Linked DNA regions of Homo sapiens: regions 1 and 3 are each linked to region 2. Evidence: fine-mapped expression QTL. A gene starts in region 2. Each other region holds a variant in brackets. All regions are shown on one strand. Distances are from middle to middle.

The links.
Region 1: its variant is fine-mapped to the expression of PPEF1 in whole blood (TOPMed, PIP 0.94).
Region 3: its variant is fine-mapped to the expression of PPEF1 in whole blood (TOPMed, PIP above 0.99).

What each region holds. Positions count from the first base shown.
Region 1 is chrX:18,737,275-18,745,459 of GRCh38, reverse strand. The region is part of intron 3 of PPEF1 (protein phosphatase with EF-hand domain 1); the gene reads right to left. Among named protein-coding and RNA genes, the nearest start is that of PPEF1, 34 kb to the right of the region's middle. The variant C/A (reference allele first, on the strand shown) is at 3,692.
Region 2 is chrX:18,703,641-18,711,825 of GRCh38, reverse strand. PPEF1 (protein phosphatase with EF-hand domain 1) reads right to left here and starts at 4,181. Exons shown (of 16, transcript NM_001377996.1): 1 at 4,000-4,181. The coding sequence starts at 4,045.
Region 3 is chrX:18,679,639-18,687,823 of GRCh38, reverse strand. It overlaps a transcript of PPEF1 not described here. Among named protein-coding and RNA genes, the nearest start is that of TRV-TAC1-2, 8.8 kb to the right of the region's middle. The variant A/G (reference allele first, on the strand shown) is at 3,748.

The DNA of each region.
Region 1 (8,185 bases), 34 kb before region 2:
CATGGAGAATTGCTTGAGTCCAGGAGTTCGAGACAAGCCTGGGCAACATGGCAAAACCCCTACAAAAAATGCAAAAAAATTAGCTGGGCATGGTGGTGCGTGCCTCTAGTCCCAGCTACTCGGGAGCCTGAGGTAGGAGGATCATCTGAGCCCAGGAGGTCGAGGCTGCAGTGAGCCATGATCATGTTACTGTGCTCTAGTCTGGGTGACAGAGTGAGACCCTGTCTCGAAAATAAATATATATATATATAATATATATTCTATATAATTATATGGAATATAATATAATATATAATTATATTATAATATATAATATATATAATATAATTATATAATATATATAATATAATTATATAATATATAATATATATTCCATATAAATATATAATTATATGGAATATATATTATATAAATACTATAATAAATATATATTTTATATTTTTTATATGTATAAAATATAGACATTAATCACACTGGTTTGAATCACAGCTTCTCCACCAATGAGATGAATAACCTTGGGAGATTGCCTTCTAAGCCTCAGATTCCATATCTACAAAAAGGGGATGATAATACTACTAATCTCACTGGTTTGTCATGAAGACTAAATGAAATGATGTATTTAAAGCACTTAAATACATGGCACATGGTAAACATGTAACAAATATCAACAATAAAAATATTATTATTACTTAATAGTAGCACAATATAAGATAAATTGACATAATTCAAAAGCTTTACTAAACACTACCGATAACCAATGGAAGATATAATGGGGAAAATGTTCTATTCACCATAGCAACAAAAAATATAAAATACCTGGTCCGATAGGACATTTTGGCTGATCTGAGAAGCAGAAAGAAAAGTGAAAACAACACTTCCACACACTCCATCCCACTCCCCGCTTCCGCCAGTCTCTGTTTAAACCTATGGCTATGTATGGCAGCTTCGGCTTTCTGCCTGTGGGAGGAGGCTGATGTGTGAAAAGTGGACTGGGAATGTTTCTGTGGAGTCTCTACACCCCATGGAGTCCTATGCACTGGTTTTGAGCTCTTAAAGTAGTAGCACAGGGAGATCAACTGTTATAATTGATCATCAAGAGGTGGTAGGATTACAAGGACAAGTATGACTGCTTCCAGGGTCACCTCTTATCTTCAGAGTACCCAACGTGTCTCAAGATACTCCATGCCCCAGAGTTAAGACCATTAATCTGGTGGCCCCGATATCTGGAAATGTTAAATAACCTTCTGGTTCCTAAAAATATCCTATTTAGGCCGGGCGCAATGGCTCACGCCTGTAATCCCAGCACTTTGGGAGGCCGAGGCGGGTGGATCACCTGAGGTCGGGAGTTTGAGACCAGCCTGACCAGCATGGAAGAAACCCCGTATCTACTAAAAATACAAAATTAGCCAGGCATGGTGGTGCATGCCTGTAATCCCAGCTACTCGGGAGCCTGAGGCACGAGAATCACTTGAACCTGGGCAGCGGGGAGGTTGCAGGGAGCCGAGGTCATGCCACTGCACTCCAGCCTGGGCGACAGAGTGAGACTCTATCTAAAAAAATAAAATAAAATAAGAAGAGTTAGAAAACTCTTCCAAATTCATAAGAAAAAGACAAATAACCCAATAGAAAAATGGACAAAAAAACCTGAACAGGAACTTCACCACATGAGATGTCCACATGACCAATAAACATACAAAAAGGTGAGCAACTTGGTCGGGAGCGGTGGCTCATGCCTGTAATCCCAGCACTTTGGGAGGCCGAGGTGGGCGGATCACCTGAGGTCAGGAGTTTGAGACCAGCCTGGCCAATGTGGCGAAACCCATTTCTACTAAAAATGCAAAAATTAGCCAGGCGTGGTGGCACATGCCTGTAGTCCCAGCTACTCAGGAAGCTGAGGCAGGAGAATGGCTTGAACCCGGGAGGCAGAGGTTGCAGTGAGCCGAGATTACGCTACTGCACTCCAGCCTGGGGAACAGAGTAAGACTCTGTCTCAAAAAAAAAAAAAAAAAAAAAGAAAAAGAGAAAAAAGAAAAGAAAAAAAGTGAGCAACTTGACTGCTCAAAGGGAAATGCAAATTAAACCTGAAATACGATACCACTAGATATTCACCAGAATGACTAAAATGAAATGAATGTACTATTGCAAGTGTTGGTGAGGATATGGAGCAACTGAACTGGTGAGAGTATAGCTTGTTACAACCATCCTGTAAAAATGTCTGCCAGTATCTAATAAAGCTGAACAGATATAAGCGCTATAACCCCAAACTTCTATCCCTGGCTTGTGGTACATTTTTATGATAATGGCTCCCCAAGGAATCATGCCTCCCTATGTCCACATCCCTTTATACTGTAATACTGCCACTCCTCTGAGGAAGAGATGGATATCTCTTTAACTGCTCTGAATTCACGTCTGGCCTTGTGACTTGTTTTAACCGATAGAGTATGGCAGAACTGATTTCCCAGAGTTCTAGCACATAGGCCTTAAGAGGCCTGGCAGCTTCTGCCTTTGCCCTCTTGGACCCAGCCATCATGTAAAGAAGTCCAGAATAGCCTAATGGACAGAAAGGCTGCGTGAGAAAAAGAGAGGTAACCAAATTTTTTTTTTTTTTTCTGAGATGGAGTCTCACTATGTCACCCAGGCTGGAGTGCAGTAGCACGATTTTGGCTCACTGCAACCTCCGCCTCCCAGGTTCAAGCGATTCTTGTGCCTCAGTCTCCTGAGTAGATGGGATTACAGGCGTGCACCAACACACCCAGCTAATTTTTGTATTTTTACTAGAGATGGGGTTGGCCAGGCTGGTCTTGAACTCCTGATCTCAAGTGATCCATCCACCTCAGCCTCCCAAAGTGCTGAGATTACAGGCATGAGTTACTGCACCTGGCCGAGAGGTAACCAAGTTAATACCTAATACCAAAATCCCAGACATGTGATTAAAACCATTTGATCTTTCCTGCCCAGTCCAGCTAGATGAGTGAGCTCAACTGATAACACATGGAACAGAGGTAAGTTGTTCCCAGCAAGCCCTGTTCAAATGCCTGACCCACAGAATTACATGCAATAACATGGCTGTTGTTTTTAAGTCACTAAATGTGGGGGTAGTTTATTAGGTAGCAATAGATAACCAAAAATGAATATATAGCCAAATAAATGCATACATATTTTACCAAAAGGGACATGTACAAGAATGTACATAGCAGCACCATTTAAATCACCAATCTGAAAACAACTCAAATGCCCATACACAATCGAATGGATCAATTATGGTATATTAGTAAAATGGAATATTATTCAGCAATAAAAATGACCAAATTACAAGGATGATTCTTACAAATGTAATGATGATCAAAAGAAGCCAGACTCAGGACTGGGCACAGTGGCTCATGTGTGTAATCCCAGCACTTTGGAAGGCCGAGGCAGGCAAATCACCCGAGGCCAGGAGTTCGAGACCAGCCTGGCCAACAAGGCGAAACCCCATCTCCACTAAGAATACAAAAATTAGCCAGGTTTACTGGTGAATGCCTGTAATCCCAGCTACTCGGGAGGCATGAGAATTGCTTGAACCAGGAAGGTGGAGGTTGCAGTGAGGTGAGATTGCGCCACTGCAATTCAGCCTGGGTGACAGAGCAAGACTCTGTCTCAACAACGACAACAAAACAAAACGTTAAAAAAAAAAAAAAAAAAAAAAAAGAAG[C/A]AGCAGCCAGACTCAAATGGGTATATACCACATGCTTCCATCTATATAAAGAAGTTCAAAGACTAATCTAGGGTGTAGAAGTCAAGAAAGTAGTTATGTGATTGTGTGGGGGTTGGGTAGCAGTACAAGAAGGCAGGATGGGAAACTTATGTGGCCCTGATCATGTTTTATTTCTTGTTCCAGGTGCCAGTTACATGGGTGTGTTTACTTTGAGAAAATGTACTGAGTCATATAATTTGTATACCTTCCTGTAATGTATACTTCCAAAAAAGCTTCTATAAGAAGATTAAACCACTGTCCCCTTCTTTAATAAAAATATTTTTCTTATATTTTAAAATCACCTACGGAATTTTTTAAAATGCAGATTAAAACAACAACAATGACAACACAGTCTGAGTAGACATCTCCGGGCTGGAACCCAGCCACCTGTGGCTCTGAAACTCCGTAAGTGATTCTGATGAAGTGAGCCTGGGTTGAAGTATTAGGTCATTAGCAGAAAGTGCTGTTTCATTTTATCATTATCATATTTCCTCTCAAAAACATTTTTGCCAAGGAATATGAAGCATAAACAACTGTCTTCGAATTGCAGTTATCTAAAAGAAAAAATGGCAAAGTACCCACTTCCACCCACTCCCCATTCCTTAGGTTTGGCTATTTCACCATTCAGAAGGCTTCTACAGATCATTAAATGCTTTAATTAGTTTCATACATATGCACTTAGCTTAAATCATGCCCATTAAAACACCATTCTTTTACCACTTCACTTTGAAGGGTATTTACCAGATTATTTAAAAGATGCTCCTAGATGCCATACACATTTTAATGAGAGCAAAAAAAAAAAAAAAAAAAAAATGGTTGGCCCAAATTAAAGCAAAATGAGCGTTTAAGTCTGGCATCTGTCTTGGAGATAATAACAGGCAGATCTTAATTTGCAGGAGAAATACATGGTTGTAAAAAATTATAATTTTAAAATCATTTTTGAACTACACCTCCATTGCCTGCCTCTGCTTCAGAATGACTAGATGATAGGTAGACAGACAGACAGATCAAAGAGAAGAGAGGCCGGGTGCAGTGGCTCATGCCTGTAATCCCAGCACTTTGGGAGACTGAGGCAGGCAGATCACGAGGTCAGGGGTTCAAGACCAACCTGGTCAACATTCTCAAACCCTGTCTCTACTAAAAATACAAAAAATTAGCTGGGTGTGGTAGCAAGCACCTGTAATCCCAGACACTCAGGAGGCTGAGGCAGGAGAATCACCTGAATCCGGGAGGCAGAGGTTGCAGTGAGCCGAGACCGTGCCACTGCACTGCAGCCTGGGAAACAGAGCGAGACTCTGTCTCAAAAAAAAAAAAAAGAGAGAGAGAGAGGACAGAAAACAGACACAACGGGGCCAACTGTGTTTAATTTGCCATTTTCCCCTAGATCTGCTGCATGAAATACTCAAAATATTTTGATCTCTCAGCAAAAAAGTTTTGTGGATGAAAAATGAAGTTCCCTTGATCTTGGTTCCAAGATGGCCGAATAGGAACAGCTCCAGTCTACAGCTCCCAGCGTCAGCGACGCAGAAGACAGGTGATTTCTGTATTTCCAACTGAGGCACCGGGTTCATCTCACTCGGGCTTATTGGACAGTGGGTGCAGCCCACGGAGTGTGAGCAGAAGCAGGGCTGGGCATCGCCTCACCCAGGAAGGGCAAGGGGTCGGGGAATTCCCTTTCCTAGCCAAGGGAAGCCGTGACAGATGGTACCTGGAAAATCAGGACACTCCCACTCTAATACTGCACTTTTCCAATGGTCTTAGCAAATGGCACACTAGGAGATTATATCCCACACCTGGCTTGGAGGGTCCCACGCCCACGGAGCCTCGCTCACTGCTAGCACAGCAGTCCAAGATTGAACTGCAAGGCAGCAGCAAGGGTGGGGGAGGGGCATCCACCATTGCTGAGGCTTGAGTAGGTAAACAAAGCAGCCGGGAAGCTTGAACTGGGTGGAGCCCATTGCAGCTCAAGGAGGCCTGCCTGCCTCTATAGACGCCACCTCTGGGGGCAGGGCATAGCTGAACAAAAGGCAGCAGAAACTTCTGCAGACTTAAACATCCCTGTCTGACAGCTTTGAAGAGAGTAGTGGTTCTCCCAGCACAGAGTATGAGATCTGACAACGGACAGACTGCCTCCTCAAGTGGGTCCCTGACCCCCGAGTAGCCTAACTGGGAGACAACTCCCAGGAGGGGCCGAATGACACCTCATACAGCCAGGTACCCCTCTGAGACGAAGTTTCCAGAGAAAGGATCAGGCAGCAACATTTGCCGTTCTGCAATATTTGCTGTTCTGAAGCCTCTGCTGGTGATACTCAGGCAAACAGGGTCTGGAGTGGACCTCCAGCAAATTCCAACAGACCTGCAGCTGAGGGTCCTGACTGTTAGAAGGAAAACTAACAAACAGAAAGGACATCCACACCAAAACCCCATTTGTAGGTCACCATCATCAAAGACCAAAGGCAGATAAAACCACAAAGATGCGGAGAAACCAGAGCAGAAAAGCTGAAAATTCTAAAACTCAGAGTGCCTCTTCTCCTCCAAAGGAACGCAGCTCCTCGCCAGCAATGGAACAAAGCTGGACAGAGAAGGACTTTGATGAGTTGACAGCCGTAGGCCTCGGATGATCGGTAATAACAAACTTCTCCGAGCTAAAGGAGGATGTTCGAACCCATCGCAAAGAAGTTAAAAACCTTGAAAAAAGATTAGACGAATGGCTAACTAGAATAAACAGCGTAGAGAAGACCTTAAATGACCTGATGGAGCTGAAAACCACGGCACGAGAATTACATGACGCATGCACAAGCTTCAGTAGCTGATTTGATCAAGTGGAAGAAAGGGTATCAGTGATTGAAGATCAAATGAATGAAATGAAGCGAGAAGAGAAGTTCAGAGAAAAAAGAGTAATAAGAAATGAACAAAGCCTCCAAGAAATATGGGACTATGTGAAAAGACTAAATCTGCATCTGATTGGTGTACCTGAAAGTGACTGGGAGAATGGAACCAAGTTGGAAAACACTCTTCAGGATATTATCCAGGAGAACTTCCCCAATCTAGCAAGGCAGGCCAACATTCAGATTCAGGAAATACAGAGAATGCCACAAAGATACTCCTCGAGAAGAACAACTCCAAGACACATAATTGTCAGATTCACCAAAGTTGGAAATGAAGGAAAAAATGTTAAGGGCAGCCAGAGAGAAAGGTCGGGTTACCCACAAAGGGAAGCCTATCAGACTAACAGCGGATCTCTCGGCAGAAACTCTACAAGCCAGAAGAGGGTGGGAGCCAATATTCAACATTCTTAAAGAAAAGAATTTTCAACCCAGAATTTCATATCCAGCCAAACTAAGCTTCGTAAGTGAAGGAGAAACAAAATCCTTTAAAGACAAGCAAATGCTGAGAGATTTTGTCACCACCAGGCCTGCCTTACAAGAGCTCCTGAAGGAAGCACTAAACATGGAAAGGAACAACTGGTACCAGCCACTGCAAAAACATGCCAAATTGTAAAGACCATCGTGGCTAGGAAGAAACTGCATCAACTAACGAGAAAAATAACCAGCTAACATCATAATGACAGGATCAAATTCACACATAACAATATTAACCTTAAGTGTAAATGAGCTAAATGCTCCAATTAAAAGACACAGACTGGCAAATTGGATAAAGAGTCAAGACCCATCAGTGTGCTGTATTCAGGAGACCCATCTCACGTGCAGAGACACACATAGGCTCAAAATAAAGGGATGAAGGAAGATCTACCAAGCAAATGGAAAACAAAAAAAAAGCAGGGGTTGCAATCCTAGTCTCTGATAAAACAGACTTTAAACCAAGAAAGATAAAAAGAGACAAAGAAGGCCATTACAAAATGGTAAAGGGATCAATTCAATAAGAAGAGCTAACTATCCTAAATATATGTGCACCCAATACAGGAGCACCCAGATTCATAAAGCAAGTCCTGAGTGACCTACAAAGAGACTTAGACTCCCACACAATAATAATGGGAGACTTTAACACCCCACTGTCAACATTAGACAGATCAACAAAACAGAAAGTTAACAAGGATACCCAGGAACTGAACTCAGCTCTGCACCAAGCAGACCTAATAGACATCTACAGAACTCTCCACCCCAATCAACAGAATAAACATTCTTCTCAGCACCACATCACACTTATTCCAAAACTGACCACATAGTTGGAAGTAAAGCACTCCTCAGCAAGTGTAAAAGAACAGAAATTATAACAAACTGTCTCTCAGACCACAGTGCAATCAAACTAGAACTCAGGATTAAGAAACTCACTCAAAACTGCTCAACTACATGGAAACTGAACAACCTGCTCCTGAATGACTACTGGTACATAACGAAATGAAGGCAGAAATAAAGATGTTCTTTGAAACCAATGAGAACAAAGACAACATACCAGAATCTCTGGGACACATTTAAAGCAGTGTGTAGAGGGAAA
Region 2 (8,185 bases):
CTGAGATTGTGCCATTGCACTCCAGCCTGGGCTACAAGAGTAAGACTCCGTCTCAAAAAAAAAAAAAAAAAGCTATAGTAATCCAGACACTGGTACTGGCATAAGAAAGACATACAGATCACTGGAATAGAATTGAGAGCCCAGAAATAAACATTTATGGTCAATTGATTTTTGACAATGGTGCTAAGAGGATTCAATGGGGAAAGAACAATCTTTTCAACAAACAGTGCTGAGACAACTGGATATCCACATGCAAAAAATGAATTTGTACTCCTACCTCACACCATACGTGAAAATCAGCAACTCAAAATGGTTCAAATGCCTAAAAGTAAGAGCTAAAAGTACAAAACTTTTTTTGGCCTTTAAAAACATATATATTTAGGGGGTATAAGTGTAATTTTGTTACATGTATAATGAAGTCTGGGCTTTTAGCGTAACCATTACCCAAGTAGCATACATTGTACTCATTAGGTAATTTCTCATACCTCACCCCCCTCCCACCCTCCCAGCTTTCTGAGTCTCCAGTGTCTATTATTGTATTCTGGATGCCCATATGTATACATTATTTAGCTCCCACTTTTAAGTGAGAACATGGGGTATTTGACTTTCTGTTTTTTGAGTAATTTCACTTAGGATAATGGCTTCTTGTTCCATCCATGTTGCTGCAAAAGACATGATTTCATTCTTTTTTATGGCTGAGTAGTATTCCATGGCATGCATATATATATATATACACACACACACACATATATATACATATATATATGCACACACATACATACATATATACGTATATATACACACACATACACACACACACATATATACACACACACACACTTACATATACATACACCACACATTTTCTTTACCCAATCATCCATTGAAAAACACTTACGGTGATTCCATATCTTTGCTATTGTAAATAGTGCTGCGGTAAACATAAGAGTGTAGATATCTATTTGATATAATGACTTCCTTTGGGTAGACTCCGTGGTGGGATTGCTGGATGAAATGGTAGTTTGGTAGCTCTATTTTTAGTTCTTTGAGAAATCTCCATAATGTTTTCCACAGAGGTTGTACTAATTTACATTCCCACCAGCAGTGATAAACATTCCCTTTTCCCTACATCCTTGCCTACATCTCTTATTTTTTGACTTTTTAGTAATAGCCATTCTGACCGGTATGTAAGGTGGTATCTCATTATGGTTTCAATTTGCATTTACCTGATGATTAGTGATGTTGAGCATTTTTTTCGTGTGTTTGTTAGCCATTTGTATGCCTTCTTTTGAAAAAATGTCTGTTCATGACCTTTGCCCACTTTTTAATGGAGTTATCTTTTTTTTCTTGTTGAGTTGTTACAAAACTCTTAAAGTAAGACGTGAGCAAAAATCTTTTTGGACTCGGGAATGGATTCTTAGATATGACACCAAAATCACAAGCAACCAAAGAAAAAATAAAGTGAACTTCATCAAAAGTAAAAACTTTTGTGCTTCAAAGAACACCATTAAGAAAGGATGAAGAGAATTCAACAAATGAGAGAAAATATTTGCAAGTCACATATTTGATAGGAAACTTGTATCTAGAATATATAAATTTATCTTACAACAATATAAAAATAAATAATTCAATTAAAAATGGGTAAATGATCTGAATAGACATTTCTCCAAAGCAGATATACAAATAGCCAATAAACACATGAAAAGATGCTCAATGTCATTAGTCACTACTGAAATACAAATGAAAACCATGGTGTGATACCACTTCATACCCACTAGGATGACTAAAATCAAAAGGACAGACAATAACAACTATCGCTGAAAATGTGGAGAAATTGAAACCTTTATACACTGCTGGTAGGAATGTAGAATGGTGCAGTCACTTGGGAAAACAGCTTGGAAATTTCTCAAAATGTTAAACATAAAGCTACCGTATGACCCAGCAATTCCACTTCTAGGTATATACCCAAGAGAACGGAAAACATATGTTCACAGCAGCATTGTTCATAACAGTCAAAAAGCTGAAACAGGTCGGGCACAGTGGCTCACGCCTGTAATCCTAGCGCTTTGGGAGGCCGAGGCGGGCAGATCACCTGAGGTCAGGAGTTCGAGACCAGCCTGGCCAACATGGTGAAACCCTGTCTCTACCAAAAATACAAAAATTAGCTAGGTGTGGTGGTGTGTGCCTGTAATCCCAGCTACTCCAGAGGCTGAGGCAGGAGAATCGCTTGAACCTGGGAGGCGGAGGTTGCAGCGAGCCGAGATCGCCCCACTGCACTCCAGCCTGGGTGACAGAGCAAGACTGTCTCAAAAAAAACAAAAAACAAAAAACAAAGCTGAAACAATCCAAATGTCTATCAATTGATGAATGGATAAATACAATGTGGCATATTCATACAATGAAATATTATTCCACAATAAAAAGGAATATAGTACTGATACATGCTACAACATGGACAAAGCCAGACACAAAAGGTCACATAATATATGACTCCATTTACATGAAATGTCCAGAATAGATAAATCCATAGAGACTGAATATAGATTTGTGGTTGCCAGGGGCTGAGAGGAGAAAGTGCTTAATGGATAAGGGGTTTTACTTTGGAGTGTTGGAAATGTCTCAGAAGTACATAGGGGTTGTGGTTGCACGACACTGTGAACATACCAACTGCTGCTGAGTTGTTCACTTGACAATGGCTAATTTTATGTTACGTGAATTTCACCTCAATAAATCACAGGTATTTGAAAGAAAAAGCAATCCAAAAATCTAAGCTAATATTTCCACTTACATGCAATGTTTTAAAAGTTGAAAAGTATTTCAAAAAGAGAGAGGATTTGTTTTTACAAGTTGGACTTGGCTTTTTTTTTTTTAACCTAGGAAATTTGGCTAAATTTAAAGAACTGTGAGTAATCCTAGATATAAAAAGATAATTTCTCTTTACTCTCTGCTAATAAACGTCTACTACAGCAGTAGAGTTCAGATGGAGCTTTTGAAAGATTTATTTCATGACATGCTTAAAGATTTGAAAGAGTCAGTACACCTCCTATGTCCCTTCCTACTTTCAGAGATGAGTTTCCTACATCATCAGCACAAGTCAGCTGGGTAGGAGAATAACATTTGATTCCCAAAGTAAAACATCCCACGCTAATTAGTATAGCACACTCTGCATCCTAAACCCTCCACCTTAAGCCTGAATAAACTTCCAAAGGCAAGACGTGGAATAGAAGTTGGGGGAATTACCTATAACCTAGACATCAAAGAAGTGGAGTTTAAGAGCAAATTACTCATATTAATTGTCCCAGCTTATTTACTTGTTTTTATTTTAATTTGCTTGTTGGAAACTCTATCCCTTAAATGCTCAAGTTTGTTTCAACTAGATGCCAATAGCCATGAGAAAGAACCTCAGTACAAAATAAACAAAGTGAATATTTAAGCTTCTAATTATATGGGGGTACAGAAAGGCATGCCATCTATTTAGAAACAATACACCTTTTTTTTGGAAACAGATGATCTAGCATTCTCCCAATTCTCCTAGATTATTTTTAAAACGTGATGCAAATCTCATGAAGTTCTGTGTTGAATAGATATAGAAATAATGTGATCATTGAGTTATAAAATCCAATAAAAATTCAATGATGCTACTAAATGTCACAAAAGTAGGGATATAGCTATTTATAAAAGTATTGAAGAAACACATATAAATTACACTGCCTTTCTTGTTCCCTGCCACTGAGTTTTAAATTGAGATTTTATATTGGTACATTATCGAATGAAATTAAATCAAACACAAAATATCTCTAAGACAATACTTTATGGTACTTCATAAATTCAAAGCTACATCTTCCTAAATGTAGTTTCCTATGCTACTCTAACGATGCCTTGTGCAAATCACACAGGGCAGCTTGAGCATCGTGGGAGTAAATGAGAAAGGAGAAGAGGGTGAGGGCAGCTCATTTTCCCCTTTTCATTCATAACCACAGGCACATTCCCAGTACTCACATGTGTCAGATCTCCTGGTTTTCGTTGAAGAACTGCTGCATCCCATGACTTCTATCTAAATCATATGTGTTCATGAATTCAACTTCTGATTTTAAGACAGAGTGTGAAAAGTGCCTCCCTTTAAGCTGCGAGGAACCACTCTTAGCCGATCCTCTTCAGTCATAGATTCTAATGAGGAATACACAGGAGGGAGGGAAGGAAACCGCCAGTTAACCACATGGTAGCTGAGGGGCTGCTCAGCAGGATTCATTTTACGCTTCTTCTGAATCGCTGTTCATCATGTGATGTGGAAAGTGATCAGACATAATCTAATCCTGGCTTATTTTCCAAAACACAGCAGCAGCTACAGAGCAGCTATAGGCTGCTTCTCTGCTAGACATAAATGAGTTTCTCCATGTCTAGGTCACATCCAGCTCTGTATAAAATAGAGCATTCAAAATGAAAAGAAAAATCGAAATATGAGAGTGTACGATTTTCTAATTTAAATATGGGGAATGGGATGTGGAGGAGCTGACATAATTAACTGTTTTGGTTTTCAGCTCAAAGTAATTCAACCTATCTAGGCTTTTAAAAACACAAATTGGAAGTTGACTATGAGACAAAAACAACATATTTAACAGCTATGCTGAAATTCAAAGTGAGTTCTTTGACAGTATTTCGCGGAATAAGTTGGGAACATTTGTTTTAAAAAAAAGGAGGCAGCCGGTCGCAGTGGCTCACGCCTGCAATCCCAGCACTTTGGGAGGCCGAGGCGGGCGGATTACGAGGTCAGGAGTTCGAGACCAGCCTGGCCAACATGGTGAAACCCCGTCTCTACTAAAAGTACAAAAATTAGCCAAGCATGGTGGCACATGTCTGTAATCCCAGCTACTCAGGAGGCTGAGGCAGCAGAATCGCTTGAACCCAGGAGGCGGAGGTTGCAGTGAGCTGAGATCGCACCACTGTACTCTAGCCTGGGCGACAAAGCGAGACTCCATCTCAAAAAAAAAAAAAAAAAAAAAAAAAAAAGGAGGTTTGAAACCTCCCCCCAAATTTAGGAATTGTAATCTGTGAGAGTGTCCTTTTATTTATTTTATTTTTTGAGACGGAGTCTCGCTCTATTACCCAGGCTGGAGTGCAGTGGTGTGATCACAGCTCACTGCAGCCTCAACCTCCCAGGCTCAGGTGATCCTCCCGCCTCAGCCTCCCTAGTAGCTGGGACTACAGGCATGCGCCACCACACCTGGCTAATTTTTTGTATTTTTAGTAGAGACGGGGTTTTGCTGTGTTGGCCAGGATGGTCTCGAACTCCTGACCTCAGGTGATCCACCTGCCTCGGCCTCCCAAAGTGCTGGGATGACAGGCGTGAGCCACCGTGCCTGGCCAAGAGTGCCCTTTTAAACAAGCTCTCTGGGCACTGCTGAGGCCCCTCTGGAGTCTAACTTTGTGTTCTATAGTCCTTCTCATGAGCTCCCTGACTCCCATAATCACTTCACGGGAGTTTTCAACAAAATTCCTTTCCATAGTATACTGTCACGTCACTTTTTAGGGTGATGTTTCCTTTATTTTGTGATGCTCCAAACCAACCTGATCTAATATATTTGCATTCCTTTTTTTTTTTTTTTTTTTTCAGACAGGGTCTCACTCTGTCACCCAGGATGGAGTGTAGTGGCACAATCACGGCTCGCTGCAGCCTTAACCTCCCAAGCATGTGCCGTGACACCCGGCTAATTTTATTTTTTTGTAGAGACAGGGTCTCCCTATGTTGCCGAGGCTGGTCTCAAACTCCTGGGCTCAAGTGATCCTCCGACCTTGTCCTCCCAAAGTGCTGGGATCACAGGTGTGAGCCATCTTGCCCAGCCCTATTTGCATTTCTTGACAGGCACAAAGTCAGCAAACAACTGACATATCTATCTTTCCATTGGTACTACACCAAAAGCTTCAAAATTTCAACTCGACTGAAGAAAGGGAAAACTAAAATAAGCAAAATATTTGAACTATGGCCATGTTTTGAAAATAACAATAAGCTTAGTAAACAGATTTTCTGACCAGAGGTGAACCTGATTATTTTATGTATTGAATGAATTAGCCTTCCTAAACTTTGGGTTACTTCCAAATTTTTATTTATTTTTTGAGACAAGGTCTCGCTCTGTCACCCAGGCTGGAGTGCAGTGGCGCAACCATGACTCACTGCAGCCTCCACCTCCCGGGCTCAAGTGATTCTCCTACCTCAGCCTCCTGAGCAGCTGGAACTACAGGCATGCGCCACCATGCCCAGCTAATTTTTGTACTTTTTTGTAGACATGGGGTCTCACCATGTTGCCCAAGTTGGTCTCAAACTCCTGGCCTCAAGCAACGTGCCCACCTCAGCCTCCCAAAGTGCTGGGATGACAGGCATCAGCCACCGTGCTTGGCTTTATTTCCAAATTCGATAGGCATTTCTTTCGTGTCTTCCTTATCTACATCATGGCTAAAGAACATTAACAAGATCAGATCCAAGGGCAGGATGAGCCCTGTGGCATCCCACTCCAAACCATCCTCCAGGTTCACCACAGATCCGTTACCTTCATACTCGCTGAGCACATTTGTTCAGTTAGCTGGTAAACTCACCTATCATAACTCTCATTTATCTGTGAGACATCCTGGAGAATTTTACTAAATATTTTAATAAAATGATGATATGTATATATTTTGATACTTTGACATTCCAGCTTATTCCAGCAAAAGAAGAGAGAGGGAAGGAGGAGGAGAAAAGGAAGGAAGGGCAGGGGAGGAAGAAAGGAAGGAAATCAATTTGGCAACATTTTTAATACAAAATCATAGAAGTTTAAAGGTGAGAGAGACCTTTAAAATTACCTAGTATTTACACAAAGTGCAAGGAAGTTAAGCAACTTGTCCCATGTCATATAGACCTGTGCTTGTCATACTTCGTTGCATATGAGTGTCACCTGGGGAGCTTTTCAAACTCCCAGTACTCAGCCTGCACCTCATTAAGTCAGAATCTCTTGGGGTTTAAAAAATACTGATGCCCAAGTCCCACCCCCAGATAATTTGACATAATTGGTACTGGGTGGAGGATGAGGCATCAAGATTTTTTTCAGTTTTCCAGATTCTAATACACAACAAAGTTTGACAATCTGTAATAGAGACGGTATTTTAGAAAACCCACGGTGCTGCATAGTGATGATCACATTTTCCTAGAAATGCTTTGGCTCCATCTATTTCAAGCTGAATTTTTCCAGAGGTCATATCAAGTCTGTGGCTTCTAGCATATATTCTTTTCTCATTTTTGAAATTGGGGCACTGTTCATCTAGGAATTCATCTAGTCCTGGTGACATTCTCCAGGTGCCTAGATCAGTGCTCTCCAACTCGAGTGCTCACAAGACTTATTGGGGGTGGGGGGATGCAGATTCCCAGGCTTTACTAACAATACTCAGATTCAAAAGTCCAGTGCCTTGGAATACACATTTAAAGTGCACCATGCCGAGAACTTTGATGCAAGGAATCCCCATATCTCAGTTGAAGAAACACTATTTTCCAACAGTATCCAAATCTCGCTTGGGCTTCGCTCCATCCTCATGCTATTTTTTCCACCCCTTTTTATGAAGACATAAGAATTGGGGCTGGGCACAGTGGCTCTCATTCGTAATCCTAGCACTTTGGGAGGCTGAGGCAGATGGATCCTTTGAGCCCAGGAGTTCGAGACCAGCCTGGGCAACATAGGGAGACCCCATCTCTACCAAAAAATACAAAAAATTAGCCAGGCATGGTGGTGCACATCTGTAGTCCCAGCTCCTCAGGAGGCTGAGGTGGGAGGATCACCTGAGCCTGGGAGGTCAAGGATGCAGCGAGCCGTGATCACACCACTGCACTCCAGCCTGGGTGACAGAGTGAAATCCTGACTTTAAAAAAAAAAAAAAAAAAAGGTATGTTTTTTAATTTAAAAAAGAAAACAGGGGAAAAAAAGAATTGAGCATTTAGTAGGCCATAAACACTGATTGGACTGATTGACATATTTCAATTTCGATTTTCTTTTTCCAGAAAAAAAAAAGCACTGTCTCAATATCTCTCCAGAGGCATTTGGTTTTCAGTCACCCCTCAGTTAATCCACAACAAACACAACTGCATATAAAAGATTCAGTAAGAACTAAAAAGCATCAAACTTGAGTATATTTCTGTTAGACTATTAGCCCCACGGGCAACTTC
Region 3 (8,185 bases), 24 kb after region 2:
CCGGCTACTCCGGAGGCTGAGGCACGAGAATCACTTGAACCTGGGAGGTGGAGGTTGCAGTGAGCTGAGATCGTGCCACTGCACTCCAGCCTGGGCAACAGAGTGAGACTCTGTCTCAAAAAAAAAAAAAAAAAAAAAGAAGAATATTTAAAGAGAATAATTTAAGTGGCAATCTCTTTGTAAACTATAAAGTGCTAAACAAGTATTAGCTACCATTTCCAGGAGAGGCCTGCATTTCCCAAGTGGATATACATCCTAGAGAAGAAATGTGGTCTGGCCAGTGGGTCAGGATGTGTCTAGGGACATAATAGAATTAGATTCTAGAGTCAGCTTGCTTGGGTTCAAGTTCTTGCTCAACCACTTAACAGCTCTGTGTGAGCTTGGGCAAATTACATAACCTCTCTGTGCCTATTGCTTCAACTATAAAACGAGGCTACAGATAGCACCAATCACACTGGGTTGACGTAACGAATGAATGGGTTAACACACATTGTAGCAGCCACTGATCATTACTGTCCATTCTCCCCCTGTTCCTTACTAATAAAACCCCCGTTTTGTTCTAGGTGGCAGTGTTCGGGCAACAAAACTTGATTTGCTAGGCTCCCTTGCAACTATGGGTAGTCATGTGACACAGTTCTAGCCCTTGAGATACAAGCAGAAATCTATGGGCTGAGGCTTCCAGAAAAGCTATTTTCCTGATAAAAAGGAAAAGACTCAGCTGGCATAAGCCTCTTCTCTTTTGTCCTTCCCCCTATTCTGCCTGGAACCAGGACACAATGCCTGGAGGAGGAGCAGCCATCTCATGCACACTAGGAAGAAAGCCTCACACTGAGAATAGCGAAACCATGATGCAGGATGGATGCAGGATGGAGGGACGAGCTTGAGACCTGGATGACAATGTGACACTGTATATCTCCTGGCTTCGTATCATGTGGGACGAAAACCAAGCGCTCTGTGTTAAGCCCCTGGTGTTCTATTTACCTTATTTCAGGCAGCCAAACACATTCTCTAACCAATACAACTATAAAGCAGCTTGGTGCCTGGCTCATAGTATTCAATAAATGTTAGCTATTATTATTATCATTAGGCCAGCATTCTGTTCCCTAACCAGGTGGCTAGCAAATAGTCCCCTAACTTCCTTGTAATAGAATCACAATTTTCCTTTTCGAAATCACCCCCGCTTCCTGTTTTTTAGCCAAGTGATTTGCATGGGACTGACGCAGCCCCCAACTCTAAGCGCGGGCCCTGGTTGACTTAAGCCAATTATCCGAGCCCACTCCCCAAGCAACAGCAACTTTTCAGGAACAAGCACATAATTCAGGCCTAAGACAGCATATCCTCTTCTCCTGGCAAAAAGGAGTGTTTGGGGTGGGCGTATAGCTAAAGAAAGATATTATGAGTGAATCTCGGGGTACCTGGAGAGAGTGCTGGGACAGACTCACTTATCTCCCCCTAGTGTGGTGCTCTGAGCAAGGTTTCACCATGAGAAGAGCCAGTCCAGGGGGTGAAATTGATACATGGGGAAGGGCCAACCAAAAGGCAGGGAAATGGAGCCGGAGCCCTCCATCCTTAGTCTCTGGATCAAATCTTACCTTCGGAAGTTTCAAACCAGATTCGTTTGAAACTGGTTTTGCTCAGTTTGGGTCGGATCTTCTGCCACAGGCAACTACAAGATTCTTTCTGATACTGTTAGAAGAAAAAAATAATAATTTTACTGTAAGGACTACATGCCTACAGGGGAACTTTCCAAATCCTGGTGTAGTGCTTCTATTCAGTAAAATCTATAATCCAGCACCATATAAGTTCACATCACAATCACCTTTTTAAAAGAAAAAATGACAATAAGATTCACAATCAATTTTCAGTTGTGTGAATTCATTCAAATTTCTCTTCTGAAAGAAAAAAAAAGTCAGCCAGTTGAAAGTGTTTTGTTTTTGTTCTTTTTGTAAACACGTCCAGGAGAGGTCCATTAAGAATAAATTTGTATCCAGGCTTTAGAAGAACGCTGAGCCCAGAAGCAGACGCTAGAAATGTATGACTAATATTGAAATAATATTCACAGACAGTTGTCATGGCAGCCTACTCCGTCTGCACAAAATAGAACCCACTGCTTTTTTTTCTTTTTTTTTTTTTTTTTTTGAGATGGAGTCTCGCTCTTTCACCCAGGCTGGAGTGCAGTGGCGAGATCTCGGCTCACTGCAAGCCCCGCCTCCCGGGTTCACGCCATCCTCCTGCCTCAGCCCCTCAAGTAGCTGGGACTACAGGCACCCGCCACCGCGGCCGGCTAATTTTTTGTATTTTTAGTAGAGATGGGGTTTCACCGTGTTAGCCAGGATGGTCTCGATCTCCTGACCTCGTGATCCACCCTCCTCGGCCTCCCAAAGTGCTGGGATTACAGGCGTGAGCCACCGTGCCTGGCAGAACCCACTGCATCTTAACAGGATTTAGCAGAGGAAAACTGCTAGCATGCAGATAGCCTCTAAATGAATTAAACAACCTACTAATTGGTTTTGCTTTTATTACTGTAGATGGCCTTAGGACTCTACCCAAATTGTATCCAAAAGATCCCCAATTCTTGAAATCATTAGTAAAAATACACAATATGACTGGAGTTTAACACCTGCACCACACTTGAAATCTTTCCCTCAGACTGTGCAGAAAGCTTAGAGGCAAGTCTTATTGCGTGCCCAGTTGAATCCATGTGGAAACAAATCAGGCAGTAAGTGTTGTGGGAGTCGAGGGAGTAACCCATTCCATTTCCATCACCAATTAGCACTGGCTGCTATCAGGTGTTGCCTTTTAAATGGGACTCTAGAGGAGTGGGCAGTAGTAGTCAAATTGTTCTGTGTTCAGTTACCTAGTCACAGGGGAGTGACTTTAGAAACTAGGCACATCTCTGCCGGGTGTGGTGGCTCAGGCCTGTAATCCCAGCACTTTGGGAGGCCAAGGCAGGCAGATCACCTGATGTCAGGAGTTCAAGATCAGCCTGGGCAGCATGGTGAAAATCCATCCCTACTAATAATACAAAAATCAGCAAGGCGTGGTGGCGGATACCTGGAATCCCAGCTACTTGGGAAGCTGAGGCAGGAGAATCGCTTGAACCCGGGAGGTGGAGGTTGCAGTGAGCCAAGATTGTGCCACTGCACTCCAGCCTGGGCGACAGAGTGAGACTCTGCCTCAAATTAAAAAAAAAAAAAAAAGAGAGAGAGAAAAAGATACTAGACACATCCCAAGATAGGTTAAGTAAGAGAGGGGGAGACAAAACATTCTAAGCTCATCTGTTTCTCTCTCGAGTGGCCATCTCTAGGAAATGTAATCTCACTGAAAGTGATCGTGGGTGATTGTGAAGGTTATAGATAGCTGGTCTGGAGAGGTATACCATGTGAGGCCTTCTTTCCTATTAGACAGGTTTTTGCTTATCACCCTGCCTATCCCTCATCAGCCTTCTCTTTTGTCAAGTTTCTTCTTTAAGAGAAAGGAGACCGGGCCCAAATTCAGATCTAGTAACATCCTACATTAGGAAAACCACATCAAGCCACTATCTTCCATTAACATACTGGAACAAATGAGTCCTTTGGGTTAACTCATGTTCTTCAGACTTCTTGAGATGAGGCCATGTCATATACTTTTTTTAAAAAAGCTCCCGCACTACCCAACACTGTGTTCCCAGACATATTGCAGGCATGTGATAATGAACAACTTCCATCAAGGGACTGGAACACAGGGCAAGCCCTTGGTAGCTGGGGG[A/G]CAAATTAAAGACATTGTCAAAATGGTACAGGAGAGAGCTACGGGTGAGCTATGTGCAAAGGTTCAATCAGTAGGATCTGTATTTTTCCTCATATAACTGAAACTTCTACTAAACAGTAGCATTAAAAATGAGGGATTTTATTATTCATTTCACAAGGAATCTGGAGTAGGGAATCTGGGGCTGGGACCCAGGCACCTTCCTTCTTTAGGCCAAGCCATGCAGCTTTCTTCTTCCCAATTGTCAACTCATGGGTGCAAAATAGTAATCACGACAGAAAGTGATGCCCTCCTTCTAGCACCACACTCACGTTCCAGGCAGAAAGAGATGAACTATGGGCAAAAGGGGGGATACCAAATGGGTCTACCTCCTTTCAAGGAAATGAAGCTGTTTTAGCCAGACACATCACCAAAGCAAACAAAATCAGGCACTATAGTGCAGAGGCTAAGCACAGCCCACGGAGCCAGATGGTCTGGGCTTAGAACCTTGCTTCTTTATGTCACTGTGTGACTTGGTCAAGTTACCAACTTACTCTGTGCCTCGATTTCCTCACCTGCAAACTATGATAATAGTACAGGGTTCTCATGAGGATTCAATGAGTTAATACGAGTGAAGCACTTAGAATAGTCCCTAATACACAGCAAGCACTGTACAACTGTGCGTTTTTACTTGTCTTATTGAGGAAAAGAGGAACGGATATTCCTCTTTTCCTCAATATCTGCTAGTAGATAAGCAACTAGCACTATCTGACACAGACATGTTGCCCACTGTATAATTGTACCTGGCCTGGTTACTGTGCCACACGTGAGCAAGCGCCCTGCTGTACATGAGAACTACTGGCTCCCCAGCAGACAGGGAAACCACAACCCAGGTGATACGGTTTGGCTGTGCTGCAACCCAAATCTCATCTTGAATTGTAGCTCCCACAATTCCCACGTGTCGTGGGAGGGACCCGGAGGGGAGGCAATCGAATCATGGGGCAGGTCTTTCCCATGCTGTTCTCATGAGAGTGAATAAGTCTCATGAGATCTGATGGTTTTGGCTTCCCCTTTTGCCTGGCTCTCATTTCTCTCTTGCCTGCCAGCATGTAAGACGTCCCTTTGCTCCTCCTTCATCCTCCGCCATGATTGTGAGGCCTCCTCAGCCACTGGAACTGTGAGTCCACTAAACCTCTTTCCTTTATAAATTGCCCAGTCTGGGGTTTGTCTTTATTAGCAGCGTGAGAACAGATTAATACACCTACCCTACCAGAAGCGGCCATTCCCATAACTGTCAGCCTCATCCCCACTTACTGGGGACTGAGAACAACCAAAACTTTCAGGCATCCGAGCCAGGGCACCACCGTTAGCCACTGTGCCAACGCTCATCCATTTGAGACACAGATCATTAGGACTCTTTCCATTGCAAGTGTCAGTAAGCCCATTCCAGCTGGCTTAAGCAAAGCTAGGAATGGTTTCCTCAAATAACTGAAGAGTCAATGGTATATGCATGACTGGGGCCGGGGCGTAAGTCATGGCACCCAGCTGCTCTATTGCTCAGCTGGGATCCCTTGGTGTCCGCTCCATCCTCAGGTCTCCAGCAGGTCGTGGACGTCTTTCATGCTTCATGGTCATTCACTAACTTCTGAACCTCCTCCCTATGTCTTGGTAATTCCTCCTGTTTGACTCCTAACTCGCCAAAGTAGAAACAAGAAATTTGCTTTTCCAGCCTCTTTGATAGCAAGAGCACAGGCAGGTAAACTCAGCTCTGCCAGCGACTTCAATCCAGAAGAGGGCAACCTGAAGACGTGGAGGGCTCCCAAAGGCCATCTACTGCCAAGGTTAGTGGCAGAGGTGTCCAGTTTCCAGAGACAGCAGTGGTCAAGATTCTGGGCTCCAACACTGGTGTGACTTACTAAATATGTACTCAGAGGAGGCAGCAGTGCGCACCTGCGCTGGTGCAGTCCCTCAGTGAGATTTGGACATCATTCCTGGCTTTGGAGTCACCGAGGCCTTCTTGGAGATCCTGTGAGCCATCTGGTGTCCTTTAATAAACTCCTTTTCCTCTTAAACTTGTGGGAGTGTTGAAGCCGCTTAGGTGGTGTTATGCTTTCGTAACAACCCCAAACGTTAGTGGCTTACAATGATAAAGGTTTGTTTTGCACTCCAGTTCCGCGGACAGTGCAGATGGGCTGCAGTTATGTAACATGGAGCCTTCCCTCTGAAACTCAGGCCAACCTGTCTATGGGGCATTGCTGTTCTTCTTGCAGCAAAGGGGAAGGACAGAAGCAGCCACCACACTGGCTCTTACACTTTTGCTTGGAAGTGATACTCATCACTTCTGCTCACATTCAACTGGGCAAAGCAAAGCCACCTGGGCAAGTCTATCGGGGGACCATGGTGTCAAAATCCTACATGGGGAAGAAAAGTGAATATTTTGAACAAGAGGATTCTGTTGTATGCAACCAAGAGCCCTAATATAACGCAATAGTAAGATGGCAGCAGAAGTGCCAGCCTCTACATCATCTCACGTTCAAGTCCAGGGTGAATTAGGAAACGTCTCTGCTCAAGAAGTCAAGCAAAAATCCAGGATTAGCTCTTACTGGAACTCATTGCCCTGGCTTGAGTCACCCTCAACACTGACACATTGTTTTCAAGACATATTCACTGAGCACTTACTATATGCTGGAAACTATTTAGACTCTGCGTAATACAACAGAGAATGAAGCCAAATCCATGCCCTCATGGATCTTTCATTCCAGTCGAGGATGGTGGGGACAATCAACAAAATAAATTAGTAAATATGTAGAAATTTAGTGCTGCAGGCCAGGCGCAGTGACTCACGCCTGTAATCCCAGCACTTTGGGAGGCCAAGGTGGGCGGATCACGAGGTCAAGAGATCAAGACCATCCTGGCCAACATGGTGAAATCCCATCTCTATTACCATTTGACCCAGCCATCCCATTACTGGGTATATACCCAAAGGATTACAAATCATGCTGCTATAAAGACACATGCACACGTATGTTTATTGTGGCACTATTCACAATAGCAAAGACTTGGAACCAACCCAAATGTCCAACAACGATAGACTGGATTAAGAAAATGTGGCACATATACACCATAGAATACTATGCAGCCATAAAAAATGATGAGTTCATGTCCTTTGTAGGGACATGGATGAAACTGGAAACCATCATTCTCAGCAAACTATCGCAAGGACAAAAAACCAAACACTGCATGTTTTCACTCATAAGTGGGAATTGAACAATGAGAACACATGGACACAGGAAGGGGAACATCACACACCGGGAACTCTTGTGGGGTGGGGGGAGGGGGAGGGATAGCATTAGGAGATATACCCAATGCTAAACGACGAGTTAATGGGTGCATCACACCAACATGGCACACGTATACATATGTAACAAACCTGCACGTTGTGCACATGTACCCTGAAACTTAAAGTATAATAATAATAAAATTTAAAAATATTTATATATATAAATTAGCTGGGCGTGGTGGCAGGTGCCTATAGTCCCAGCTACTCGGGATGCTGAGGCAGGAGAATCATTTGAACCCAGGAGGCGGAGGTTGCAGTGAACCGAGATCACGCCATTGCACTCCAGCCTGGGCGACAGAGCGAGATGCCGTATCAAAAAAAAAAAAAAAAAGAGAAGAAATTTAGTGCTGCAGAGAAAAATAAGCAGGAAAGGGGGGCAGTGAGTCTCTAGCATGAATGGAAAAGAATAATAGCAATTTTCAGTAGACAGTCAGGAAAGGCCTCACTGAGAAGATATCTGGGTATGACCCGAGCAAGGTGAGAGAACAAGCAACAGCGTGATCTAAGGAAAAACTATTCGAGGCTGAGAGCAGCAGCAGCAGCAGCAGCAGCAGCAAAGGCCCCGAGGCAGGAGAGGCCTAGTGTAACTGAAGGGCAGCAAGCAGGCCGGTGTGGCTGGAGTGCAGTCAAAGCAAAGGCAAAGTTATAGGATTTTTTTTTTTTTTTTTTTTGAGGACAGGGTCTTGCTCTGTGACCCAGGCTGGGGTGTAATGGCACAGTCACGGCTCACTGCAACCTCCGCCTCCCAGGCTCAAGCGATCCTCCCATCTTAGCCTCCCAAGTAGCTGGGATTACACGTGCATGCCACCATACCTGGCTAATTTTTGTATATTTAGTAGAGACGGGATTTCATCATGCTGGCCAGACTGGTCTCAAACTCCTGGCCTCAAGTGTCTGCCCACCTTGGCCTCCAAAGTGCTGGGATTACAAGCATGATCAACTGTGCTTGGCCAGTAAGAGGATTTATAACCAGAGAGGCACAAGCCTTGTAGGCCACTGTAAGGCTTCAGCTTTTCTAGTTGAGGTAGGGAGCCATTGAAGGGTTTTGCACAGAATGATGAGAGCTAATCTGAATCTTGAAAGGACCACTCTGGCTACTGTGTGGAGAATAGTCTGTAGGGG